2 separate regions of the Homo sapiens genome follow, and region 1 is linked to region 2. The links come from fine-mapping of genetic effects on gene expression. A gene starts in region 2. The other region holds a variant in brackets. All regions are shown on one strand. Distances are from middle to middle. Region 1 overlaps AHDC1 (AT-hook DNA binding motif containing 1). Region 2 holds the start of FGR (FGR proto-oncogene, Src family tyrosine kinase).

Region 1 (9,236 bases), 37 kb after region 2:
GGGGGGCCTGTGCCTGTCTGGCTGGGCAGGCGTTTCCCGCCGGACCAGTTGGTGTCAGGCGGGACTTGGCCCCAGCTCCCTGGGCAGAGCTCAGGGTGTGAGGACAAGCTTTGCCTCCGGGTCAGGGTGGCCACATTTTGTCCGCTGCTGCTGTCGCCGCCGGCTGGGCGGGGGCATGTGCCCGGGCCTGGGCAGAGTCCTGCCAGGGGCATTTGGGGTGTTTCTATTGTTGGCTTGTTCCTGTTCTGTGTGGCTGTGTGAGCTGGGGCTGTAAGTGAAAGATTACCAGTCTGTCCCCCAACCTGGGGTGGGGGGGTAGGAAGGCTGGGTTGTGGGGGGACCCCCCAGGTGGCATGTGCATGCTGCTTGCCATCTCCCTCCTTTGAGCAGATGTATATTTATTTTTATAGTAATGGAAAATCAAACTGGATAGTAAGTTGAATTCATTTTTTTCTCCTGCTGTGTCAATAGTTGGAGTAATCCCCAGAGACTGGTGAACTTCTGGCCCCAGAGCTCCCACTCTTCAGGGGTTGCAAAGACCAGTAAGGGCATAAGCTTTGGGGGACCAGTGGCTACCAGCCCAAACCAGTGAGTTGTCCTTCTTCATCTGGCTTTGGGGCAGATGCCCAGGTGGGCAGGCATTGCCCCCTCCCCAGGAATCACCCACAAGCCCAAGGTGTAGTCTGGCCTTTCTAGTCTGGTCAGTGCCTAACTGTGCCCAAGCCCTCAGGAACGTTCCCCTGGTGGGCGCTCTCCTCCGCCTGGGCTCCCAGCCCACGTGCCGATATTTATTTTCTGTAGTAAAATCCATTTTTAATGCCGTTACTTTTGAAATAATATAGAGAGAAACAAATGTGATGTGTTTAAGTTGCCCTCTGTGAGTTTTTAATGTGATCTATGGCTGAGGTAGTGATGGAAGGAGCTGTTGGGCTTGGAGAAATTTGGTGTCATAAAGAAAAAGAGCTTGCTGTTTATTATTGTTGCTGGGCTGGGGGGTCTGGAACAGGGTCGTGGGGGCAGGGAGCCCCTACCACCCTCAGGCGCTGTGGGACAGCATAGCTTCTCAGTTTCAATGCGTGAGGGTTCTGGGGTTATTTTGCATTGCTCCCCAGCCCTTGATGGGGCCTTTGGGGAAGGGGTTTGGGAGCTGGGGGACTTTGTTACCCCCACTGCATGGGCTTAGATCTGGGCTGGGAGGCTTCTGGAACCCCCTGCTGAGCTAAGTGGAGGTGTACAGTAGGGAAGTTGGACTTGGATTCAAAAGGTTAAAAGATGGGGTCTCCACCTGATTGCTGTGGTTGTGCTGGAGGCTTGAGGGGCAGACTGCCCCTGGCAGAAGACATTTGGGTAGGGGGAGCTGTTCTGGACTGGCAGAGCCCCAGAGGGACATTGTTGTTCTCCAATCAGCCTGGAGCACTGACTTTGAACCACTCCCACCTCTATGCTTCTGTTCCCCATTGGACAGGGGCTTCCTCCAGGCAAACCTGATCTCCCTCATTTCCCCCTTCCCCTCTTCTGTCCCACCCCCAGGTCAATTTCAATTTTTTTTGTTTTTTTTTTTTGGTTTGTAGAACACAGAGCTCTGTGTCTCATGCCAGCCACCCAAGACCAGGGGGTGCCATGCCTGTGTACCAGATGCCCAGGCCCTTCTGGTCTGGCTTGGTGAGGTCAAGCAGACTCACTATTATGGGATGGAGCCCAGCTCTGTCTCTGGGTCCCCTGGGTCTCTTGGGACAGAGTGGGGAGGCGGAAGCCAGGATGGAGTGGAGCTGGGGACTATGGGAGGAAGCAAGGGTAACATTGTTGCTAATGCCTGCAGATGGGCCCCCCCCAGGGAGGGGGGCGGGGGAGCGACCCACAACCACATGCATGGTGAAGAGAGAGAAAGATGGAGACCAAAGCCAGTGATGAGAGTGAAAGAGAAAACAGGCAAGAAAATCTGGAATTACAGCCCCTGGAGGTGGGGGCCGGGGACCAAGAAGGCCTAGGAATATACCACTCCCCTCCCTGGAGCCAGAGAGGAGGCAGCCCTGAGGTCCTCTCACCCAAGATCAGATTCTGGGGTTGTTTTTGGAGGAGAGACAAGCAGATGTTTGGGAAGAGGGAGGAGGACAGGTGGGAGAGAGAGAGAGACTCTCACAGGAGGAGGGAGAATGGGGAGACAGATTCCAGGGTTTTCAACAAATGTTTCAGGTCCCAGGGTAGCATCTCCCTTCTGCCCTCCCCAAATGCCTGGAACAGAGCTGAGCTTTTCTTGGGACCCGGGGGGGCGTGGCCTGTGGCAGGTACTGCACCCTACAGGTTGTCAGGTGCTCTGTGCCAAAAGACACCCAGGTTATAAAAGCGGGAAACATTAGGGTCCCAGAGGTGCCAGGAGCATCATCCAGTTGGACGCCCCCCACTTGTTTGACGAGAGAAAGCCAAGTCTAGGGAGAGGAGCCACTTGCTCAGGGTCACAGATACCTTTGGCAAGACCAGGCTGGGACCTGGGCTGTTTGCACTCCACCTCACTGTAGTTAGAGAATTGGAACAGCTGCAGGGGGCCTCCTGGGAGTGGAGGGGGCCGGAGCCTGGGGAGAGAAGCAGGCAGGCACCCTTGTGGCCAGAGCCCCCCCAGGGGAGGGGGAGGCGCCGCTGCTGCCGGGAGAGAGAGGGAGGGAGGCGAGAGAGGAGGGGAAACAGTGAGTCAGGCTTCCAAGAGCTGAGGATGAGAGAGCCAGAGCTGGGAGGGAGAGGGCAGGGAGGGCTGCTCAGAAGGGAGGAGAGGGAGGGGGCCCAACCAGGGGCAAGGAGAGCTCGAGAGGGAGGGAGCCAGCCCCTGGCCCTGGCCCTGGCCCTGGCCCTGTGGTAGGGCTGTGTGGAGGGTGTAGCCAATATGGACTTTACCCATGGTAGGTCAGGAAGGAGCCTGATTCTGCCCCTGCAGCATCTCTTTCTTCTTTCCTCATTTATGATCCTACCCCAGGGTCTCAGGAGGGATGACTGTGTCCTCCCATCCCTTCCTCTTGGGCCTCAGTTTCCCCATCCATTGTGGGATTTGGACTGTGAGCTATTGGAGAGGGAGTGGGGGACAGGGACAGAGTAGCCAGGGAGAATGTTAAGGGATGCTGTCTGAAGCTGCTGGCTTTGTGACGGGGGCGCTGTCACCAGTGCAAGGTAGGGTGCTGGTCTCTGCGTTCATGTCATGACGGTGGATGCTGGTGTTGGGGGGCTTGGGCAGGCGGTGAGCACTGGGATGCACTGTATATATTTGTGTGTGAGGTGCTAGATTCAGGATGGCCAGTGCCTAGACAGGGCCAGGGTCACTACATGGCCAAAACCAGCCTCCACTGTTGTGGGGGTGACACTGGTGTGATCCCCCCACGTCCCTATGGGTAGATGGAGGTGGGAATGGCCCCAGTGCAGTTGGCAAGAACAACCCCTCATGCCTGGAACTGGGACCAGAGCAGGAGGGGTCCCCAGGGACTGCCTGGAAAGGAGGAGGGAAGGAGCCCCCCTCCAGCCCAGCTGACAGGAAGCCCTGGCTCCCAGCCCCTCCTTCGCCCAAGGCCTGGCCTCTCCTGGCCCCTCCCTCCTGGATCCCAGCATCTCTTCCATTGGCCAGGGGATGAGGAAGGTGGGCATCAAGGATCCCTCTCCTGCAGGGCCTGGCTCCGGGGGCAATGGTGAAGTGAGAGTAAAGTGAGGCCCTGCCTCCCTCCAGCCCCCTTCCAGCCCCCTCCACCACACACACAAACCCAACTGCAATGAGGCCCTGTTTTCTCTCCTCTTCTGCTCTGGGGTCCTTGGCCTGGGAGCCCAGGGGAGGGGCTGCTTCTGCAGCTGGCTGGCCCCGAACTCCCAATTCAGCCCAGCTGC[C/T]ACTGAAGCTTCCAGAAGCTGCAGCTCTGCACCCCCTCCCCACCCCCTGAGCCAGGAGAGGCCTTGCTGACCTGGGGGAGGGTGCCTTGGGGAGCGAGTGGGCACCCTTGGAAGGACTAACACAGACAGCCAGACAGATGGGTGGTGAAACAGATGGACAGAGACACCCACACACAGACAGACGGAGAGAGACGGACAGATGGACTGGGACAGGGAGAGACGGACAGACAGAGGTGCTGGCAGAGAGAGGAGGAGGCAGAAAAATGGAAGACAGAGACTTAGAGAAAAGAAAGGAGACAGAGTGACTGAGATGGAGAAGGAGAGAGATGGGGAGGCTGAGAGACAGGAAGAGATAAAGAAAGGGGGAAACCCAGACAGACAGAGAGAGGGAGGGAGAGGGAGGGAGAAGACTGCAGGCTGCAAACCACAAACAGGGATTTGATGAGAATCTGGAAGGTGTTTTCTCCCTCTTCCCTCCCCAAACCCCCAGGCCAGCCAAGTCTCCATTCCTTCCACCCCCGGCTCAGTTTCCAGCTGCTAAAGAGGTCAGGGAGAAAGAGCAAGAGAGAGAAGCCGCCCAGAGCCCCTTGCTCCCTGCTCCTCTTTTCATAGGGGGAGGGGGTTGCTGAGAGGCCTGCAGCCCTGACCCCTGCACCAGATGCACATGTGCACCTCTCTTGTCTTGGGAAACACCCCCTCACATTCACCCGGGGGATGCCCCTCGTATAAACGCAGCCCCCACGGTCACACCTGTCTACACAGGCCCTGCGTCTCTCTCTCTCTCTCTCTCACACACACACTCTCACACTGTCACACACACACACACACACAAATTTGTGACATGTAAATCTCCACCCTCACACTCATTCTGCATCTCACGAACATAGCTGGTGAACACGCACCTGTGCTTCCTTCCCTGTACAGGTGTTGACTCACAGGCCCTGTCATGGGACACCCTCCTACATACAGTGGCAGTCACACCAGAGCACACAGAACCTCCCCCTGCCACCTGCCCCCCACCCCCATACTCTAACCCGGCTGGCAAGGTGGGGAGGCAGAAGGTCCTCTCAGTCGGTGAGAGCCCTTCTGGAAAGCTTCAGGGCCTGACCTGGACACAGAGAAATGCCCAGTGGCTTGGGTAGTGGGGAGCTGTCTCAAAGGTGGTGAGGCATATGTGTATAAACATGTGCTTGCATGTGCAGGTAGAAGGGATGGCGAGTGTCCTCATGGAGTGTGAGAGAGACTGGGTGTATGTGAGATAGGGTACGGGTGTGACAGGGAGCTCCAAGGTGTGTGGAGTGTGTGGGTGTGTGTGTGAGAGTGACTTGTCAGGTATGTATGTGTGGATGCACGTTTATGTGATAGGTGTGTGTGTAAGATGGGTGTGTGTAACTGTGGGTTTTGCAGGGTGGGGTATGTGTGATGGGGGTACATATATGAAGGTTTAAGGGCATGGGGCAAACTGCATGTGTGAGCGTGCAGTGGCAGGCATGCATGTGGGAAGGTGTATGAGTGCGTGTGAGTGTAGGGACTATGCAGATATGAGGGTGTAGTTCAGGTGTGAGGCTGGGAGCCTGTTGCCTGGATTGGAGCAGTGTTTTCCAAGGCCTGAGTGCTACCTGAACAGGAACATCCAGCACAAGCACGTGGGAAGGGGCCCCCGGCCTGGAAGTTGGGCACTGACCCACACAGATGCACAAGGACAGACATACCCGCCCCTGTCCTCCCTCTTCCTCTCTTCTGGCGTCAGTGGTTTTTAAAGGAGCCTCCGTGAGGACTGTTTGCTGTGCAGTTCCCCCACCCCCAGCCTGTGTCTCTTCAAACGCAGTGCTGCCCTCCAGGCAGCTTTGTGGAGGCTCCTGCCTCGACCATCTGAAGGCAGATGGGTGGGCTTGGATCCGCTGCTGCCCCCCAGGGAGCGAGGAGGCAGCTCTGCTCCTTGGGCCTGGGCACAGGCTGAGACAGATGGACTGCCTGTCTCAACACCCCCGCACAGGCACCCCATACCATAGGGGTTCTAGCGGGTAGCCCCCAGTTAGGCCCCGGAGCAAAGGCCAGGATGCTGCCCTTCATTCTCCCAGAGGGGCATCCCCCCTAACACACACAAACCCTGCAGCCCCATCACCTCTCTGGGGTCCAGGGACTCAGTTACAGCTCCCAACACCTTCTAAATAGACAACTGCCCCACATACACACTCACAGCTCTAACACCTCTAAAACACAACTGCTCCACCTACAACACCCAGCCCACACACTTCCACACACACACTCTACATACAGATACCCCCCGACATCCAGCTACCTCACATGCACATACCCCCAAACACACAACCACCACATGCTTACCCACAACCTGCAACACCTCCCTGACACCAGGAACCTGGTTACAGCCCTCATACCTGTGCATGCACGGACGATAGCCTGTGGCACATCTCTGATATCAGAGACCCATTCTTCCCTTCCCACGTATGGAGGGACCTCAGGTCTCTAACGCCTCCCCAGACCCTTGCAGGTACCCAATTAAAATCCCAATAACCTTTCCAGAGACACTCCCCAGCTCCTCCCCAAAACCACAGTGCATCCTCCACCAACCACAACACCTTTCCAGGCACATGTTCACAGCCCTAGTACTTAACCAAAACCCACATTTTTATGACCCCCCAATACATCCCTAAACACCCCAACACACACACAATCACACACACACACACACACAGCTATCACACCCTCAGCATATCAACCCCCTATCCAACCCCAACACTGCCAGATACACCCAGGACCCAGCTACAGCCCTGCTACCTTCCCACTGACTCATACCCTCAAAGCCCTGACACCTCCCCAGACACACACACTCTGCCCACAGCCCCCAACGTTTCTCCCAGCTATAGCTCAGCACTTCCCCAAACACCGGTATCATCCCCTATACCTTTCCAAACATACAGCCTCCCCCTACAACACACATACACTCACTGCTTCAAACACCCACTCAAACAAGAACACCCTCTGTAGCCACAACATTTGCCTCAAACACACAGACATGGCTTCGGTTCTAGTATATCTCTAACAGATCAGGCCCCGAAGCTTCTAATACCTCCTGAAACTTGTGCACACTGCCTCCTGGATCCCGGCACCTCCTCGACAGGCAGTCCTAATGGCCCGGCCCCACCGCTTCCCAGACAGTCTCAGCTCCGGTACTTTTCCTCAGCCACCTAAGGGCCCAGGGACACCCCTACACCTCTCCAAACACCCCGATACCACACCTGTACACAAAGACAGCCTCAGCTAGTCACAACCCTGCACCCATTCTGTGCTCCGCCTGCACCCCACGGCACCCTGTCACATACCCCGCCTAATCCTTCTGCAGCCCTCACTCCCACCGTTGGCACATTCCAGCACACCCTCTCCCCCACCTTGTTCCCCTAGACAGCCTCAGCCTGTCACACACATTGCTCACTCTTGTGTGCTCTCGCTCTCTCTCTCTCTGCTGCCCAGGCCTCCCGCTCTTCCCAGAGCCTCCTCTGCCTGGGGAGGCATCTCCACCCCTTCACCGCCCCAGGCCTTTCATTCCTGGACAGTGAGGCTGGACATCTGGTTCAAAGCTGCCCCACCCAAGACCCTGTGCTCTGGGCACCCTGGCCTGGGCTTAAAGGTTTGGGGCCTCTTTGGGGTGGGGGCAGAGCCCCTTGGCACCTGGTCATCCTGGTCTTTCAGCCAGGAACTCTCAGTACCCAGCCCTGCCCTGGCTCTGGCATGTATGTGGGAGAGAGGGACAGGGGGAGTTGCCCCCAGCCCACACTTTTTCAAGTGCTTGCCAAATCACTGCCTCCCTCCCCCAACCCCTTGGCTCACCTGAGAGGGACATGGGGCCTGGGGCTTCAGGGAGAGGGATGGGGAAGGTGCTGGATTGACATACTACCCCCCACCCCCAAATCCAGGCTGCGGGGCTTGGTCTCCCTGGGAGTCAGTTCCGACAGTGAAGGTTACTTTACTAGATGCATGATTTTAAACGGAATCTCCACCATCTGTTCCACCCCCTAATTACAGATGCACAGAATCCGCCTCAGAGGGCAGCATGAGGGGAGTGATTTAGAGGCTGAGCTGCTTCTGCCTGCATTAGGACTGGGGAGATAGGGGGGCTCTGGGTATTGCTCACAGCCCCCAAATCCCTTCTCTTTCCTAGAGGTCCCTCGTGCCTCCTCTCTTGCTGAGGGAAGGCTCACAGAAGGGCTCCACTGATCCCCAAGACCCTAAAGAAGAAGCAACTGCAGTGCTGTGGGAAGGGTCCCCAAGACATCGCCTGTGTCCCAGCCCAGCAAGTCCTGGGATGCAGGCTCCATTAGGGCCTTAAAAAATTCAGTGAATCGATCTCCTGCCTGCCTCTTGTGCCCTGGGGAGCCGCAGGCACTGGCTTAGCCCAGCTGTCTGCCCACCCTGGGGGGATAGCAGGGATTGGTGAGATAGGGAGGGGTTCAGAGCAGAGGTGGGGCAGCCAGGTTCTGGCAGCAAAGCCCATGGGCAGGCATGCCAAGACCCACCGGGGGTGTTTGCACATATGTGCCCATCCGCCCTGGCACAGCTGGCATGCCTGACCCCAGCTGGAGCCGTGGCTGTGGGACTGGGGCAGCACCAAGGGCCAGAGGGAATGGGCCAGGGCCTGGGTCTTAGGGTTCTGAGGGACACACGGCTACGCCCTGAGAATGGGTCCATCTTTGCCCATGGACACCAGGGACCTGGGTCCCAGCCTGCCTGGGGGTAGTGGTGGCGGCAGCAGTGGGCACACTGCGGTAGACTCTGGGGCATTCACTGCAGGGAGAGAGGGAGAGAGGTTGGGCTGGAGGAATTTTAAAGATTGCTGCAGGCAGGAGGGTCTCTGGAACCCTGTGGAGCGGGCAGTCATGCAGAAGTAATCCTATCGCTGCCTGCCTGGAGGAGTGGAGGGGGAGGGGAGGGACGGAGCTGCTCCCCCTTCCCCACCTCAGCCCCTGCCCCAGCCAGCCCTGGAGGGAGCCCGGGACCCTAGGGGCCTTCCCTGAGGAGACACCGTGTCTACTCCGTTCCACCGAGGCCTGTGTCCCCTGGAGGGGCAGCACCGCAGCTGTTGCTCAGCTCCTTGCTCTGGGTTTTATAAATAATGCAGCTCGGAGGTGGGGCCAACTCTGCCCCTGGTCACCTTGGGTCACCCAGTATGGAACCTCCAGCTGGCAGGCCTTTGGCAGAGCCCCTCTCCCGTCCAGCCTGCGCCTCCTCGTCTGCTGTGTGAGCTTGGGCCAGGGGCCCAAGCCTCTCTGAGCTGGGCCCGAGGTAGAGGAGTGCGGAAGAACCCAGAAACCCTGGGTCCTTTCGTCCCACCCCCAGCCCTCACAGGTTAACCGGCAGCC
Region 2 (9,236 bases):
GGGCTTTGATTTTTGATTTTGGTATCAGTTTTTAGAATTGTTTTATTTATTTATTTAGAGACAGGGTCTTGCTCTGTCACCCAGCCTAGAGTGCAGTGGTACAACCATGGCTCACTGCAGCCTCGAACTCCTGGGCTGCCCAGGCTGGTCTCGAACTCCTGGCTTCAAGTGATCCTCCTGTCTCAGCCTCCCAAAGTTCTGGGATTACAGGTGTGAGCCACCATACCTGACTTAGAATTGTTTTCAAGGAGCTTGTGAATACATGGGCTGAAAGGATAGGAAACTGTGGTCAGAGAGTTGAGGTTTAATTGAATGAATGAATGAATGAATGAATGATAGTGAACACTTATGTGGTATTTACTATGTGCCAAACACTCCTCTAACAGCTCACTGATTTCTCTCAAGACTTCTGTGAGGTGAGGTCTACTAAATTTCCATTTTACATATGAGGAAACTGAGGTACAGAAAGGTGAAATAACTTGGGCAGGGCGCGGTGGCCCACACCTATAATCCCAGCACTTTGGGAGGCCAAGGCAGGTGGATCAGTTGAGGTCAGGAGTTTGAGACCAGCCTGGCCAACAGAGCGAAACCCTGTCTCTACTAAAAATACAAAAATTAGCTGGGTGTGGTGGCTCACGCCTGTAATCCCAGACACTCAAGAGGCTGAGGCAGGAGAATCGCTTGAACCTGGGAGTTACAGTGAGCCAAGATCACATCACTGCACTCCAGCCTGGGAGACAGAGCAAGACTCTGTCTAAAAAAAAAAAAAAAAAAAAAAGGTGAAATAACTTGTCCAAGGTCAGAGTTGGTCTGCAAACCAGGCAGCCTGGGCCCAGAGTCTGTGTTCCTAATCAAGGTTATTCTGAAAGGATGAATGAGGGCATAGAATCCACTTTGCTCGTCCTAAGAAGTGCCAGCTGTCTCCTGACCTCAGATTGGGTCAGAGCCCTAATCTGGTTTAGAGAGGTCCAGAGACAAAAAACAATGAACACAGAAATATATAATTCCAGATTGTGATAGCCATAGAGGAGACAAACTGGATGCTGAGACCGAGAATAAGGAGACCTTCTTAGATGTGGCAGTCAGGGGAGGCTTCCCTGAGGAGACGGCACTTCAATTGAAGAATAAAAAGGAAGCAGTACTGTGAAGAGCAAGAAGAAGAGCATCCTAGGAAGAGGGAACACCATGTAAAAAGACTGTGAGACAAAAATTCAGTGTATTCTAGGAACTGAAAAAGATCCAAATGTGGGTAAAGGGAAAGATGGCTAAAGCTGGGACTGGAGAGGAGGCAGGGGCCAAGCACACAGGGCCTCAGAGGACAAGACAAAGCTGCTGGATTTTATTATTCTTTATTATTATGGTATCGTATGTATTGTATTTTTATTTTTCCAAGCAAAATGAAAGGTAAGGCACTGGGAGATTTTAAGCAAGGGACTAATGTGGCCCAACACATATTTTAAAAAGTAGAAGCAATTTTTTTTTTTGAGACGGAGTCTTGCTTTGTCGCCCAGGCTGAAGTCCAGTGCCGTGATCTCCGCTCACTGCAACCTCCGCCTCCTGGGTTCAAACGATTCTCCTGCCTCAGCCTCCTGAGTAGCTGGGATTACAGGCACCGGCACCACACCCAGCTAATTTTGGTATTTTTAGTAGAGGCGGGGCTTCACCAAATTGGCCAGGCTGGTCTCGATCTCCTGACCTCAAGTGATTCGCCCGCCTCAGCCTCCCAAAACAATGGGATTACAGGCGTCAGCCACCGAGCCCGGCCTGAGAAGCAATGTTGTCATTTTGTTCTTCCATTCATTTGCTTATTCAGTCATCAATTCTTGAATTTCTTCATTCATTCTTTCTTACCTTCCATTATTTAGTTTTTCACTGGGCTTTCCTTTGTTCATCTGTTAATTCCTTTGTCCTTTGGTTGATTCACGTGTTCCTATACACAGAAAGCCTGCTACTGTGTGCTGGGCCTTGTGTGGGTACTGGAGGCATCTACAAGAGCCAGACCCCTGCCCTTGAGGAAAACATATCCCACACACCCATCCCCCAGGAACCAGTGGTGCCCCAGGCAGAAGATGCTGAGGTTCTGCTGGGGGTGTGGAGTGGGTAGAGGCAGCAATCAGGGAAGGCCTCTAGAGCAGATGCTTGTGAGTCAGACCTTGAAGGATGACAGAGCGAGCATGATAGATTGGGGGGATCCCCCAAGAGCAGGGACCAGTCTCTCATCTCTGTGTTCCCTAAGGCTGGCACCTAAGACACAATTATAAACGTTTGCTTGTTTGCTAATTGAACATGTGGGCCGATGGCCAGGCAGGGAGCATTTGATGGCGGAGGTGATGCTGCCCGGCTAGGGTGAAGCCACTCTTCCAGAGACCCTGCACTGCCACTGGCTCCTCTGTCTTCCTCCTCATCCCTCCTCCCATTTCCTAAGAGAAAAGCATTCTTATCTCCATCCCACCACTCTGTTACCCCAGGCACATTGGGCCACACTTGAGCATGTGTACGCATGCACACACACATCCCCACATGCCCCTGCCCATACAAAGAAACACACTTGCCTGCACACCATGGCCTAGTTGTTGATTCCAAAAGCAAAGTCATCATGTCATTGCTTTCTCTCTCTCTCTCTCTCTCACACACACACACACACACACACACTTCTGTGTTTACGCACACTCTCCCTGCCTCTCACCACATCCCAACAGACACATCCTTCTCCACCAAACAGCCCTCCCCACCACACCTCTTCCTCTCCTGGACAGGAGGGATATTCCGGGTTCTTGCTTTAAGGCTGAAGTAACAGTGGTGGGAGTGGGGACTGAACCCCAGATTGAGGAGGGGTCAGGGATCCCTATCAGACAGAGAGACTGGAACTGATAGAGGATGCTACCGTTTCTCTTTTTGTTTTTAAAAATCTTTTTCCACATGTTCTAAGATACTCAGTTTTTCTTCCTTTTTTTTTTTTTTTTTTTTTTTCTTGAGACGGAGTCTCGCTCTGTCGCCCAGGCTGGAGTGCAGTGGCGCCATCTCGGCTCACTGCAAGCTCCGCCTCCCGGGTTCACACCATTCTCCTGCCTCAGCCTCCTGAGTAGCTGAGACTACAGGCGCCCGCCACCACGCCCGGCTAATTTTTTGATTTTTAGTAGAGATGGGCTTTCACTGTGTTAGCCAGGACGGTCTTGATCTCCTAACATCGTGATCCACCCGCCTCGGCCTCCCAAAGTGCTGGGATTACAGGCGTGAGCCGCTGCACCCGGCCTTTTCTTTCTTTTTTTTAAAAAAAGTCATTTTCTGCAACAAAACCCACATTCTTTTTTTGTGTTTTTTTTTTTTAAGGCAGGGTCTTGCTCTGTCACCCAAGGTAGAGTGCAGTAGCTCAATCACAGCTCACTGCAGCCTCGACCTGCCTGACTCGAGGGATCCTTCCACCTCTGCCTCTGCAGTAGCTGGGACCACAGGTGCACACCACCACACCGAGCTAACTTAAGAAAAATTTTTTTTGGTAGAGATGGTGTCTCCCTATGCTGCCTAGGCTGGTCTGGAATTCCTGGGCTCAAGCAATCCTCCCACCCAACCTCCCAAAGTGCTGGGATTACAGGCTGAGCCACTGCCCCCAGCCAGTTACTCAGTTTTTCTAAAACTTGGGTGCCTGGGGGAGGCTGACACCCTTCCCACTCCTCTGAAAGGCAGTTTCCTAAGGGAAGGGTCTTCTGCTGCTCACCACCCTTAACAGCCCTGTGTCCCCAGTGCTCAGCCCCTGAGGAAGGGAAGGCGTGCTGACAGGGTCCATGTGATCCATGTCCAGTGGCTCTGGTGACAGCAGTCTGAAGTCAACTGGCTGTGAGAACTCGAGTAAGGCCAGTCCCGATCTGGTCCTCAGTGATGGAGAAAAGCCCCTCTTAACCTCCAATTCAATGATCCTAAAAGAGCAGGTGCTTCGGGGGTGCTGAAACTGCGCTTTTGGAGGGGGCTTTTGGGAAGGCCGGGCTGGGGACTCAGGTCTGGAGGGTGACAGAGCCGACCTCCCGTAAACCAGGGAGGAGGAAGGTGGGGGCGGGTGGGCCTAGGATCTGGGGGCGCCTCCTCGCTGCGGGGAGCTGGCTTGGGGCTAGGGCGTGACTGTCTCCCTGCCACCATCACCGCCCGCCGGCCGTGACTGCAATAAGAGAAGTCCGAGGCGGCTTCCTCCTCCCTGCCCAGCAGGGGCGGCGGTCAGAGGCGGGCAGCACCCCAGTTCTCCCCGCACGCCGGCACTCGCGGCTGCTGGAGCCCCGGCTGGCTCACCCCGGGGCCGGGCAGAATTGGGCTCCAGGTAAGCGACAGCGTCGGGTGGGGACTGGGCAGGTCAAGCAGTGCCCTCCCCCTCGAGGCTCTGGAGAGAGGACTGGGGGTACACGGGAAGAGAAGCCTGAACCTGGGGGTCGGGGGACACATGAGCAAGGTGACAGCCAAAGGGACCCCAGCCCGAAAAGGCCTAAGGAGGAAAACGGGCGACCTGAAAAGCAAGGCTGATAAACCTGGAGGAGAGGGCGGAGGGGAGCACGGGGGAAGCCGACCAAAGGGACCCCCAAAAAGGTCTAGTGGGTAAAATGGAGGGGACTGATAAGAGTTTAGGAAGGGGGCTGAGGTGGGGGAGAAGGATTAAGGGGAATCCCCAGGACGGTCTGGGGGAGAAACTGAAGGGATCGTGAGAGTGGGACTTTGGGGAGAAGCCGACGGGTCTGATGGGTCCAGGAGAGGGGAAATGGGTGGGGGTGCTGGAGGGAACAGGAGAGGGAGCTGGCGGGAAGGGGGTTGAGGAGAACGACTTCTGGAGGACGGAGAACCTGGGGTGCAATTGCGGGTCCAGGAAGTTCCCCTCTTCCGAGCCGGCCGAAGTCGGGGTGAAGCCCACAGCCCGCAGGGTAACGTTAGCGGCCGCGACCGCGGCCCCGCGACCCTCTCGGCCCGCCCTTGCGGTAGGTTCCGGGCTGCAGGGGACTCCTGCCGGGCGCGCGAGGCGTGGGTCCCCGCTTCCTGGGGAAGTCCCCGCCCTCGGCAGGGACAGGCCTCTCCGGGCGCCCCCTCCGCGCCCGCGGCGGTCTCGGCCCGCGCTCCCCGCTGGATCCGGGAATTGCTGCCGCCCCGACGGAAATCCTGCCTTTGACCGCGAGTGCCCGCAGGGGCTGCCTCCAAGGCAACGAGAGGGCGGGCCGCGCTGGGCCGCCGCGGGGCTCCGGGTGGGCGCAGCCCCCTTTGCTCTCCGCCTTCGCCCCCTTTTGGAATCCTCGGTCTGGTGGGTGGGGGGTGGGCTTCCCGACCGAGGTAGGAGGCGATGCCGCTGTGTTCAGGGATCCTGGGGTGGAGGATCTGCTGTTTGAGAGACCTGGGTTCTTAGCAAGACTGGGCCCTTAATTGCTGTGTGACTGTGGGCAAGTTACAGGGCTTCTCTGGGCCTCACTTTCCTCATCTGAACTATGGTGAGAAATGATCCTTGTGTCCACTCTTCCCCCACGAGAATCAGGTGCAGAAAGCAGTTTTTGCTGAGTGTCCTGAAGGGTTAAGGGCTATCCCTGACTCAGCGAGCCTCCCCTTCACCTTCTCAAAAACATGCAGAGGAGGCCAGCCTGGGCAGCACAGGGAGACCCCCGTCCTGTCTCTACAAAAAAATATAGTTAGCCAGAAGGCTGGAAGTGGTGGCACCTGCTGTAGTCCCAGCTACTCCAGAGGCTGAGGCCGGAGGATCGCTGGAGCCCACGAGTTCAAGGCTGCAGTGAGAGCTCCTGGATGAGAGAGTGAGATTTTGTCTGTAAACAACAACAACAACAAAAAGCATGGAGGGGGACCAGACTGCCCGGCTCTCACTGACAGGGCCTCCAGGGACCAGCACACAGTTGGCGTCTAAATAGTTTATGGCTCTGATGAGAGCCCATACTGGGGAGGTCAGCAGAGTTAAAATCTGTCTCACACCCTCTCTGGTGCTGCATCCAGTTGGCCGCCCCTCGGGTGTGTACTCTCAGGGGCCCTGATGTCCTTGGCATCCTTCCGACTGTGGTGATGATGGGAGAGCAGGACCCTGTTCCCACTTCACAGATGGGAAGATGGAGGTTTGGGAGTTGGCAACCTGCAGGGCCAACAGTAGGGACCAGAATTCCAGGACATCTCGTCTCTGATGTAGCCTGAGCTGAGGCCTGAATCCTTACCTCATCCCTACCAAGTTTCATGTACCCTCCGGGGAGGAGGGTGTGGGGTTTAGGGGCTTCATGACTACTTCCTGTTCCAGTGAGTAGGTGCTCTCACACCCTCCTCCAGTGAGGGTGTGAGTGTTTGTATGTTTTGGGCTCTGAGTGAATGAGCATGAACCCTTGAGCATATGAGTGGATGTTTGGGTGATCTCTGCAGCCACCTGGGGCTGATGTGGCAAAGGAAGTGGCCAGACCTCAGGAGGCTGGGTAGGGAACCCCAGAGCTGGGGAAGTAGGGGCCAGGGCTCTTCCCACGCAGAGCAGACTGGGCTGACCTAAGGTGGGAAAAGGCAGGATGTCCCCCTCACCGCCCCACTCCCCTGAGGGACCAGGGAGGGGGCTTCCTGTCTGGCCACACTGTGAAATCTAGACTCCCATCCCTTGGCTGCCCCTGGACCCCCGCCCCCCGCCGCCATGGCTTCCATCTCCTGAAAATCCTGAGTCCCAGGCCAGATGGCATCTAAAGAGCTGTGTTTTAGAGGCTGGTGGGTGGTTTTCAGCAACAGGTGGAAAACCACTTTTACCCACAAGAAGTGGAAAAAACTGCTAATGGCCTCGGGACCACATGGAGGGTAAAGGCCACCCCCGATCCTGCACACACCTGGCCTCACCACGGTGGTGGTGGAGTCAGACAGGGTTGGGTGGGTATGTCTTCTTCAGGAGGCAGTTTCGAGGCCTCAAGAAAGGATGGTGTGAGATGAAAGGGGGTTAATGAAGGCAGGGCACGGTGGCTCACGCCTGTAATCCCAGCACTTTAGGAGGCCGAGGTGGGTGGATCACCTGAGGTCAGAAGTTCAAGAACAGCCTGGCCAACATGACTAAACCCCATCTCTACTAAAAATACAAAAATTTAGCTGGGCATGGTGGCAGACGCCTGTAATCCCAGCTACTCAGGAGGCTGAGGCAGGAGAATTGCTTGAACCCGGGAGGCAGAGGTTGCAGTGAGCCGAGATCGAACCATCGCATTCCAGCCTTGGCGACAGAATGAGACACTGTTTCAAAAAAAAAAAAAAGAAGAAGAAGAAGAAGAAGAACAAAGAAAGAAAGAAAGGGAGTTAATGAGCAGTGGGGGCCTCAGCAAAGGCACTGGCATTCAGCCAGGTGGAGGGTCTCGGTGAGAGGACTGAGGGTGAGGGATGGAAGCCCGCCCGGTCTGAGGGATAGGGCCTAGTGAGAGATGCGGCACAGTGGGATGGGAGTCACCTGCAGACCTCAGCCTTGCTCCCTGACCCTCCAGCCCTGGCCTGCCCCCGGCCAGCCCAGAGCCTGGAGGAGAAGCCGGAACTCTTGCAGGATGGTGGTTTCCTGCCCCTGCCCAAAGTCCCGGTTCCCTTTTGATGAAATCCCCCAGGCGGCTGGGCCAGCTCAGCCCTCTCACCTCACCCTGGGAACTTCTCTTTCTTCTCAGCCCTGCCCAGTTCTGTACCCTCTGGTCCCACACCGTCACTGCCACGGAGGACCTTCCTCAAGGGAAAGGAGGGAAGTGAAAGTTCACTGGGCACTTACTGTATGTCTGATGCTTTCAGTGATGTGACCCCATTTGATGCTGAGAAGCAACCCCAGGAGGTGGACATTTGTATTCTTATTTTATAGGCAAAGATGCTGCCGCTCAGGGAGATGAACTGACTTGCCCAATGCCTTAAGCTAGTTGTCAGGCAGGCTAGAATTTGAGCCTAAATCTGCCTCTAGATCCCACAGATACTTGGTGAGGGTTGCGGGGGCAGGACATCCTGTGTCTACATCAAAGAACTGGCATAGCTTTGGGAAGTGTGGGCCTCGAAAAAGGATGGGTGGACCTGGGGTTCCTATGTCCAGCAGTAGGGGTGAGTGGGAGGCAGGGTCCCTCCCTGCTGGGTGACCAGCTGCCATATGACAGGGGTGGTGTGTTCGACCGGAAGTATGACATTCACTAGTTAGGAACAGCATGATCTCCTGCTCAGGCTTTGGAGAACACAGCAGTGGGGGAGGGAACAGAACTCTGGACTTGAATTAATAGTCCTGACTTTGAATCCCTTGTCTGGCTGTGTGATCCTGGGAAAGTAACTTCCCCCTATGCAAAAGAGAAGGTGGAGTGGTAAATGGTCCCTGGGGGCCATTCTGGTTTTGGTTATTGGTCACACTTGGCCACTGCACATCGGGCAAGAGCCACATGTCATGAAGCCCTCACAACAACTACTCAGAAGGTGCAGATGCAACAACTAAGGCTCAGAGGCTTATGTCAAAGATCCAAGGTCATAGAGCTACTGAAGAATGGAGCTGGGGAGGGCCACAGGGCAGATGTTGAAGTGAGGAGCACTGCGGTCCAGGGTTGGACCTCAGTTTGATACTTGTAACCTGATTTTGACCCTGATGGGGATCTCGGAGGCGACTCCTGTAAACCAGATGTTCAAGAGACATATTTATAAACAGAACCAAGTGCCCAGAATGATGCTGTGGCTACTCTCTGAGCTGCCCCCTTTCTGGTATTAGCAGGCAGCGAAGTTCAGTGCTGAGAAAAGAGAGACCTGGCTTCTTCAGATTCAGCGACTGCCTGAGAAAATCTGGGCAGATATGGCTCTCTCTCTCTCTCTCCTGCGCCCCTCCCTCCCCCCACCTGCGCCCTGCCTGCTGTATCAAGGATTTAGAGCATGAGGCACAGGGCTGAGAACACTAGGTGCTCCTTAAGAGACACACGTTATTGCAGGGGTGTCCAATCTTTTGGCTTCCCTGGGCCGCATTGGAAGAAGAAAAATTGTCTTGAGCCACACATAAAATACACTAACACTAATGATAGCTGATGAGCTTTAAAAAATTGCAAAAAAGGCCGGGTGCAGTGGCTCATGCCTGTAATCCCAGCACTTTGGGAGGCCGAGGCGGGCAGATCACGAGGTCAGGAGATCGAGACCATCCGGGCTAACACGGTGAAACCCCGTCTCTACTCAAAATACAAAAAATTAGCCAGGCGTGTTGGCAGCGCGCCTGTAGTCCCAGCTACTCAGGAGGCTGAGGCAGAAGAATCACTTGAACCCAGGAGGCGGAG

Evidence for each region.
Region 1: its variant is fine-mapped to the expression of FGR in whole blood (TOPMed, PIP 0.99).

The regions. Positions count from the first base shown.
Region 1 is chr1:27,592,789-27,602,024 of GRCh38, reverse strand. The region is part of intron 3 of AHDC1 (AT-hook DNA binding motif containing 1); the gene reads left to right. Among named protein-coding and RNA genes, the nearest start is that of AHDC1, 6.7 kb to the left of the region's middle. RefSeq lists enhancers at 1,220-2,175, 2,176-3,133, 3,134-4,089, 5,178-5,703, 5,704-6,229 and 5 more. The variant C/T (reference allele first, on the strand shown) is at 3,859.
Region 2 is chr1:27,630,135-27,639,370 of GRCh38, reverse strand. FGR (FGR proto-oncogene, Src family tyrosine kinase) reads left to right here and starts at 4,186. Exons shown (of 13, transcript NM_005248.3): 1 at 4,186-4,306. RefSeq lists enhancers at 2,003-2,062, 6,691-6,740, 7,141-7,280, 7,411-7,460, 6,969-7,469 and a silencer at 5,061-5,110.